Homo sapiens: one gene and its partner. The protein of the gene in region 1 interacts with the protein of each later gene in a pairwise test. Each region holds a gene or a part of one and is shown on either strand. Other genes may lie near its edges.

What was found.
Region 2: the proteins of TMEM123 (region 1) and ZHX1-C8orf76 interact in binary tests that used the Homo sapiens proteins (3 or more experiments, as listed by UniProt).

The regions. Positions count from the first base shown.
Region 1 is NC_000011.10:102,397,034-102,400,785, reverse strand, and holds part of TMEM123 (porimin precursor), read left to right. Parts: intron 1-1,894; coding exon 1,895-1,919; 3' UTR 1,920-3,752. UniProt on the Homo sapiens protein: Implicated in oncotic cell death, characterized by cell swelling, organelle swelling, vacuolization and increased membrane permeability.
Region 2 is NC_000008.11:123,225,691-123,229,438, forward strand, and holds the end of ZHX1-C8orf76 (zinc fingers and homeoboxes protein 1), read right to left. Parts: intron 943-3,748; coding exon 783-942; 3' UTR 501-782; downstream 1-500. Other genes in the region: uncharacterized protein C8orf76, read right to left, coding at 810-942.

The DNA of each region.
Region 1 (3,752 bases):
GTGCCACCATGGTTGAGTTCTAGTAAGGGCCTTCTTCACATGGCAGAAAGAAGGCGAGCTAGTTCTCTGACCTCTAATTGTAAGGGTATTAATTCTGTTCACGAGGGTTCCACCCTCACGACCTAACTACCTTCCCAAGGCCCCACTTCAAAATATCATCACACTGGGATTAGGGTTTCAACATACTCATATTGGGTGACACAAATGTAAGAGCTAATTCACTTTTTTTAGTGTTAATGTATATAAATACCATAGAACAGATGACTGTTTTCCAAAATTTGCCCTGTGGGTTAACATTTGACATACATGTGTCCCACACACACAGTTCCTATATCAAAAAGTGTGGGAAATGTTCAGTTGACTAAAGTAAACTAAGACAGTTTACTATAAGACTTCTCTAAGCCTTTAAAATATTGATATACATTATGATTTTCCAGGATGGAATACAGTATGAACTGTTTCCCAAATTTTTAACCAAAATACTTGTTGAATGAATAAATCCCTCCCCCTGCCCCTCTTCAATGGGAGCTAACACTGTCTATCTCTTGGAACTAGTATTGTGTGGAACACATTTTGGGAAATGTTGGAATAGGCCATTGGAATCTTCCAGTTTTGACACTACATATGATTCAGTACACATAAAAGTAAATCAAACTTCTTGATAGATTTTAAGAACATGGAAGTTTCCCAGATTTTCAGGTTACTGACATAAGCTCTAAATAAACATCGCATCATAAATGAAAATTGGATCTAACAGTTATATTACTAATACTTAAACAAAAATGATAATTTAAGAACAGATTTTTTTTTTTTTTGAGATGGAGTTTCCCTCTTGTTGCCCAGGCTGGAGTGCAATGGCACGATCTCGGCTCACTGCAACCTCTGCCTCCTGGGTTCAAGCTATTCTCCTGCCTCAGCCTCCCCAGTAGCTGGGATTATAGGTGCCTACCACCACGCCCAGCTAATTTTTGTATTTTTGGTAGAGATGGGGTTTCACCATGTTGGCCAGGCTGGTCTCAAACTCCTGACCTTAGGTGATCCTCCCACCTTGGCCTCCCAAAGTGCTGGGATTACAGGCGTGAGCCACCATATCTGGCCTTAAAAACATATTTTTAAAAGTTATATTTAAAGTTACGTTGCATATATTTATCATATCAAACTCACTTTAGCTTCCATGATCACATGAGATCAGACACATTCACAGTGGCATGGCTGTAGGCTCAAACTGATTTTAAAAGAATATTAAGGTGGTGGTTTGTCAGATTAAAGGCATATTCAGAAACATTCTTTTTTAAGGTCAATACATGAAAGAATACATAAAAGAAACCATGACTAAACAGAGTGCTTTGCAGTGGCTCTGTCACCCAGGTTGGAGTGCAGTGGTGCGATCACGGGTCACTGCAACCTCAGCCTCCTGAGCTTAAGTGATCCTCTTACCTCAGCCTGCTGAGTAGCTGGGACTACAAGCATGCAATGCCACACCAGGCTAATTTTTAAATGTTTTATAGAGATGGTAGTCTCACTGTTTTGCCCAGGCTGGTCTCAAACTCCTGGGCTCAAGTGATCCTCCTTTCTGACCTCCTAGAGTTCTGGGATTATAAGCATGAGCCACTGTGACCAGCTAGAAAGAAATATTTAATAGGGACTTACAAATAGAAGCTATGTCTGTGTCTATGATTGCAGCAAGACAAGATGGTGGATCCCCATGCCATTAACCCCCAGATCTTTAACCACTACAGTATATTGGATACTTAAGGAACTTTACACAGAACACTGACCATTTTGATTGTGCAGCTTGAAATTGTTCTAATCCTACTTTACTAACAAATAGGAACATAAGTAGTTTTGACAGAAAAAACAAAACAAAGTAATTGTAACTTTTAATATATTACAGAGATGAACATGATGCCATCATTTAAGGAAATCCATGGACCAAGGATGGAATACAGATTGATGCTGCCCTATCAATTAATTTTGGTTTATTAATAGTTTAAAACAATATTCTCTTTTTGAAAATAGTATAAACAGGCCATGCATATAATGTACAGTGTATTACGTAAATATGTAAAGATTCTTCAAGGTAACAAGGGTTTGGGTTTTGAAATAAACATCTGGATCCTTATAGACCGTTCATACAATGGTTTTAGCAAGTTCATAGTAAGACAAACAAGTCCTATCTTTTTTTTTTTGGCTGGGGTGGGGGCATTGGTCACATATGACCAGTAATTGAAAGACGTCATCACTGAAAGACAGAATGCCATCTGGGCATACAAATAAGAAGTTTGTCACAGCACTCAGGATTTTGGGTATCTTTTGTAGCTCACATAAAGAACTTCAGTGCTTTTCAGAGCTGGATATATCTTAATTACTAATGCCACACAGAAATTATACAATCAAACTAGATCTGAAGCATAATTTAAGAAAAACATCAACATTTTTTGTGCTTTAAACTGTAGTAGTTGGTCTAGAAACAAAATACTCCAAGAAAAAGAAAATTTTCAAATAAAACCCAAAATAATAGCTTTGCTTAGCCCTGTTAGGGATCCATTGGAGCATTAAGGAGCACATATTTTTATTAACTTCTTTTGAGCTTTCAATGTTGATGTAATTTTTGTTCTCTGTGTAATTTAGGTAAACTGCAGTGTTTAACATAATAATGTTTTAAAGACTTAGTTGTCAGTATTAAATAATCCTGGCATTATAGGGAAAAAACCTCCTAGAAGTTAGATTATTTGCTACTGTGAGAATATTGTCACCACTGGAAGTTACTTTAGTTCATTTAATTTTAATTTTATATTTTGTGAATATTTTAAGAACTGTAGAGCTGCTTTCAATATCTAGAAATTTTTAATTGAGTGTAAACACACCTAACTTTAAGAAAAAGAACCGCTTGTATGATTTTCAAAAGAACATTTAGAATTCTATAGAGTCAAAACTATAGCGTAATGCTGTGTTTATTAAGCCAGGGATTGTGGGACTTCCCCCAGGCAACTAAACCTGCAGGATGAAAATGCTATATTTTCTTTCATGCACTGTCGATATTACTCAGATTTGGGGAAATGACATTTTTATACTAAAACAAACACCAAAATATTTTAGAATAAATTCTTAGAAAGTTTTGAGAGGAATTTTTAGAGAGGACATTTCCTCCTTCCTGATTTGGATATTCCCTCAAATCCCTCCTCTTACTCCATGCTGAAGGAGAAGTACTCTCAGATGCATTATGTTAATGGAGAGAAAAAGCACAGTATTGTAGAGACACCAATATTAGCTAATGTATTTTGGAGTGTTTTCCATTTTACAGTTTATATTCCAGCACTCAAAACTCAGGGTCAAGTTTTAACAAAAGAGGTATGTAGTCACAGTAAATACTAAGATGGCATTTCTATCTCAGAGGGCCAAAGTGAATCACACCAGTTTCTGAAGGTCCTAAAAATAGCTCAGATGTCCTAATGAACATGCACCTACATTTAATAGGAGTACAATAAAACTGTTGTCAGCTTTTGTTTTACAGAGAACGCTAGATATTAAGAATTTTGAAATGGATCATTTCTACTTGCTGTGCATTTTAACCAATAATCTGATGAATATAGAAAAAAATGATCCAAAATATGGATATGATTGGATGTATGTAACACATACATGGAGTATGGAGGAAATTTTCTGAAAAATACATTTAGATTAGTTTAGTTTGAAGGAGAGGTGGGCTGATGGCTGAGTTGTATGTTACTAACTTGGCCCTGACTGGTTGT
Region 2 (3,748 bases), on another chromosome or scaffold:
CCGAGGTGGGTAGATTGCTTGAGGCCAGGAGTTCAAGACAGACTGGCCAACATGGTGAACCCTGTCTCTACTAAAAATACAAAAATTAGCAGGGCGTGGTGGCACATGCCTGTGATCCCAGCTACTCGGGAGGCTGAGACATGAGAATCGCTTGAACCCAAGAGGTAGAGGTTGCAGTGAGCCGAGATCGTGCCACTGCACTCCAGCCTGGGAGACAAAGCAAGACTCTGTCTCAAAAAAAAAAAAAAGTTAATGAAGGTTTACATGTTAGTTTAAAAAAAATTACCTTTGAATTTCTATGCAACCATCAAAGTAGTAACAGGGTAGAGCAGGAATAAAATGGACTTGCAGCTGGCAAACACAAGCTCCAGACCAGCTCTCCCACTGAAAATCTGACCGCAGGCAAGTCACAAGTTCTCTGAGCCTCAATTCTAGCTCTACTCAACTTCACAAGCTGTTATGATGAATGGAGGAAAAAAAATAGAACTGCTACACAAATGTAAGCATTCATTCATTCATTTATTCAGCACTGAAACAAACAATTATTGGGCATTGATGATGTTCAGGCAGGCAGGTGCTAACAAGCACTGACAAGTACATGAAACACAGCCCCTGCGGTCCCGCACGCTGCAGGGGAATGCCGATCAAGAGGCCGCCTTGGTGATTGCTGAGTGATCAAAAGGCACACAGAGGAGGGAGACAAGTCCTTCAGTAGATTAAATTTGGCCCTGCTTTATAAAAAATGCTATCAGAGCCAGGGAAAATATCTATGATGCTTCGTTTCACATAAACCCGAGGGATACACTCACCTCAGCTATCAACAGCAAAGTGTCTTCTTTGAAGCTGAACCCTTTCATTTTATCTTCAATTTCCTGCTGAGTCCTTAAGTTCCTCTCCAAAGCAAACGATGTTTGCTGAGGTTGGGTAAACTGAAGCAGAAGCCTGAAAAACCGAAAAGTCTCAATGCGTGGCGAAAAGTCCCAACGCTTCCAGATAAAGGAAAGCCGCGAGGAAATGTTCAGAAAGCCCAGGTATTGAGTCGGCTGCAAGTCCCACCAGGTTAAAAAGCAGGTACCCACCCTCACTAGAACTATCATTTCAATCCCTAAAGCTTCCGACTTGGAATCAATTGCCCAACTTTACATTGGAGATTCATCTTTTCTAAAATATAAAGACTAAAACTGCTCAAAGAAATCTTCAGAGAGCAACACCTGAAAAGAGCTTCCGGCCTCAAAAGAGCTTCCTGTGGAAGTCAAGGGATTGAAAGGATAAGTAATTTGGAGTGAAAGGAACGAGCCTCCCAATCAGACTCCTCTCACACAGGCCCTCTGGATTTGCTCCTTTGAAGTCAGTGTTCTGTGACCCTTCCATCTCGCTGACCCCACAGCAACTTGACCGCAAGGACTAATTAGATTCGCTAGCACACTTCAATTACCCCAAGCAGGGCCAAATCTTTGATGACCCTCTGACAACCACTCTGCGATACCTTACCACTGACTTCCCTGTCATGATCATAGCTGGTCTCCTCTCTCATTTAACTTCCTCCTGTCTTCCTCATTTGGCTCCTTTTTTTTTTTTTTTTTAATAAATACTCAATATGCAGATTTTCCCCTTTTTTCTCACTGGTACCTACTGCAATGCCCAGAAGCACTGGCTCTCCATGCTGTGGAACATGCCCAACACTACGCTAGGCAATGAGAGATACTGATGAGCAAAACACACTTGTGGCCTCATGGAATGAATGGAAGGAGGGAGATAGCACATAAGTATTTCAGGTAGTGACAAGTGCTATGGAAAAAAACCCAAGACAGGGTGGACACAGTAACCTCTTCAGATGCGGCGGTATAGGCAGGAAGGCTTCCTTGAGATACCAGGCAAGCTACGAGCTACCTGATGAGGAACCAGTGGGAGAACATCTGGTGGCGAGGGCTTGGCCAGGGAGAAGGGGGCTCTGACACAGGAACAAATTTGATATGCTTGAAAATCACTAAGATCACTGTGGCTGGAACACAGTCAGAGAGAAAAATGTGTAGTAAATGAGGTGGGAAAAAAAAGCAGGGCCAATTCAAATCAGACCTTGCAGGCCATGGAAAGAAATGCGGAATTGACGTAAGTGCAATGGGAAGCCATCCGGGCGTTTCAGAAAGGAGCCTGACCTGACTCACAGGTAAAATGATCATCTGTCTGCTTCAGTCTGACCTGTTGACATCACCTACCCGGCCTCGGGAAGCATTCACCTTCGTTACCCCTTTGATGTAACTTGCTTTCTGCCCTCTGGATATACTCCAGGCACCCGCGACTCGGTACTTCAAGCCTAAAATCATTGCCTTCCACCCCAAATCGGCTCTGCTCATCCTCCCAGATGTCCTATCTCAGCGGAAGGCACCACCATCCACCTGTGCATCCTCGAGAGACTCTGCAGAGACTCTTCCGGTCTCCTCACCCTCAACCTTCCCACACACTCCGCTGGTCACCAAGTCCTGTCTATTCTATCGTGCAGTGACATCCATTTCTTTTTTTTATTACCACTGTACCAGCCTAGGTCAGGCCCTCATCATCTTCCACTAATTACTCTACAACCTCTAGTCCTTAGCTCCTCCTTCTAATCCAGCATCGCAGTCACCAGAGCTCTCTAAATCACAGGTTTTGGCCAGGCGCGGTGGCTCACGCCTGTAATCCCAGCACTTTGGGAGGCCGAGGCCAGTGGATCACCTGAGGTCGGGAATTCGAGACAGCCTGACCAACATGGAGAAATCCCATCTCTACTAAAAACACAAAATTAGCCTGGCATGGTGGTGCATGCCTGTAATCCCAGCTACTCGGGAGGCTGAGGCAGGAGAATTGCTTGAACCTGAGAAGCAGAGGTTGCGGTGAGCCGAGATCGCGCCATTGCACTCCCACCTGGGCAACAAGAGTGAAACTCCGTCTCAAAAAAAAAAACACCAAAACCCAAAACACACACACACACACAGGTCTTATCACATGCTCCTGTATTTAAAACCTGCAAATACTCTTCAGGCCTTCGGCACAAAGACCAAACCCTTGTGACACCAAACATCTTGTGTTAACAATAAAAACAACAAAAATAAAAGTACTAATCTAACATTTACCAAATGCCTACTACATACCATGCAGGACAATAAGTACTTTAAATACTTTAATTCTACAACCCCAGGAAGCAGGCATTTTCCCCATTTCTCCATCTGTCAAGATTAAGCAACTAGAGAGCAGAGTTTAAGGAATGTGTGCAAGGTCAGACCGCTTGCAAGAGTTCAGGTTCATCCACTTAGCATCAGCAATTGACTAAGTTCTTCAAAACCAGTTCTGACGCCAAAGTCCTACTTCCTACTTCCTCTGCCACCCTGGCACTGTGGCCACAGCCTACCTTGAGCCCTTACCACCAATGCTGCTCTTACCACCAGACAATGTGACAACACTGTTCTAGAACGGATCCTCTGCCCCTCTGGGCGGTGCCTTCTTTTTACCTAGCATGCCTCTTCCCACGTGGGGAATATTAACGTGGAGTGAGCAAGATAAGCTGAAAGAATACAGGGTCTGGAATCAGAGACCAGCTCCAAATCCTGGCCCTGCACTTCACAGTTGCACCACTTTGGGAATGATTTTAATAGTTTCCTGATCCATCTAGTGGGATCCCAATAGGTATCCCAGAGTCATGAGGATTAAAATGAAATAATGTATACAAAGCATCTAGCACTCAGTCAACTGACAAGGGTTCCTACAGGGACCA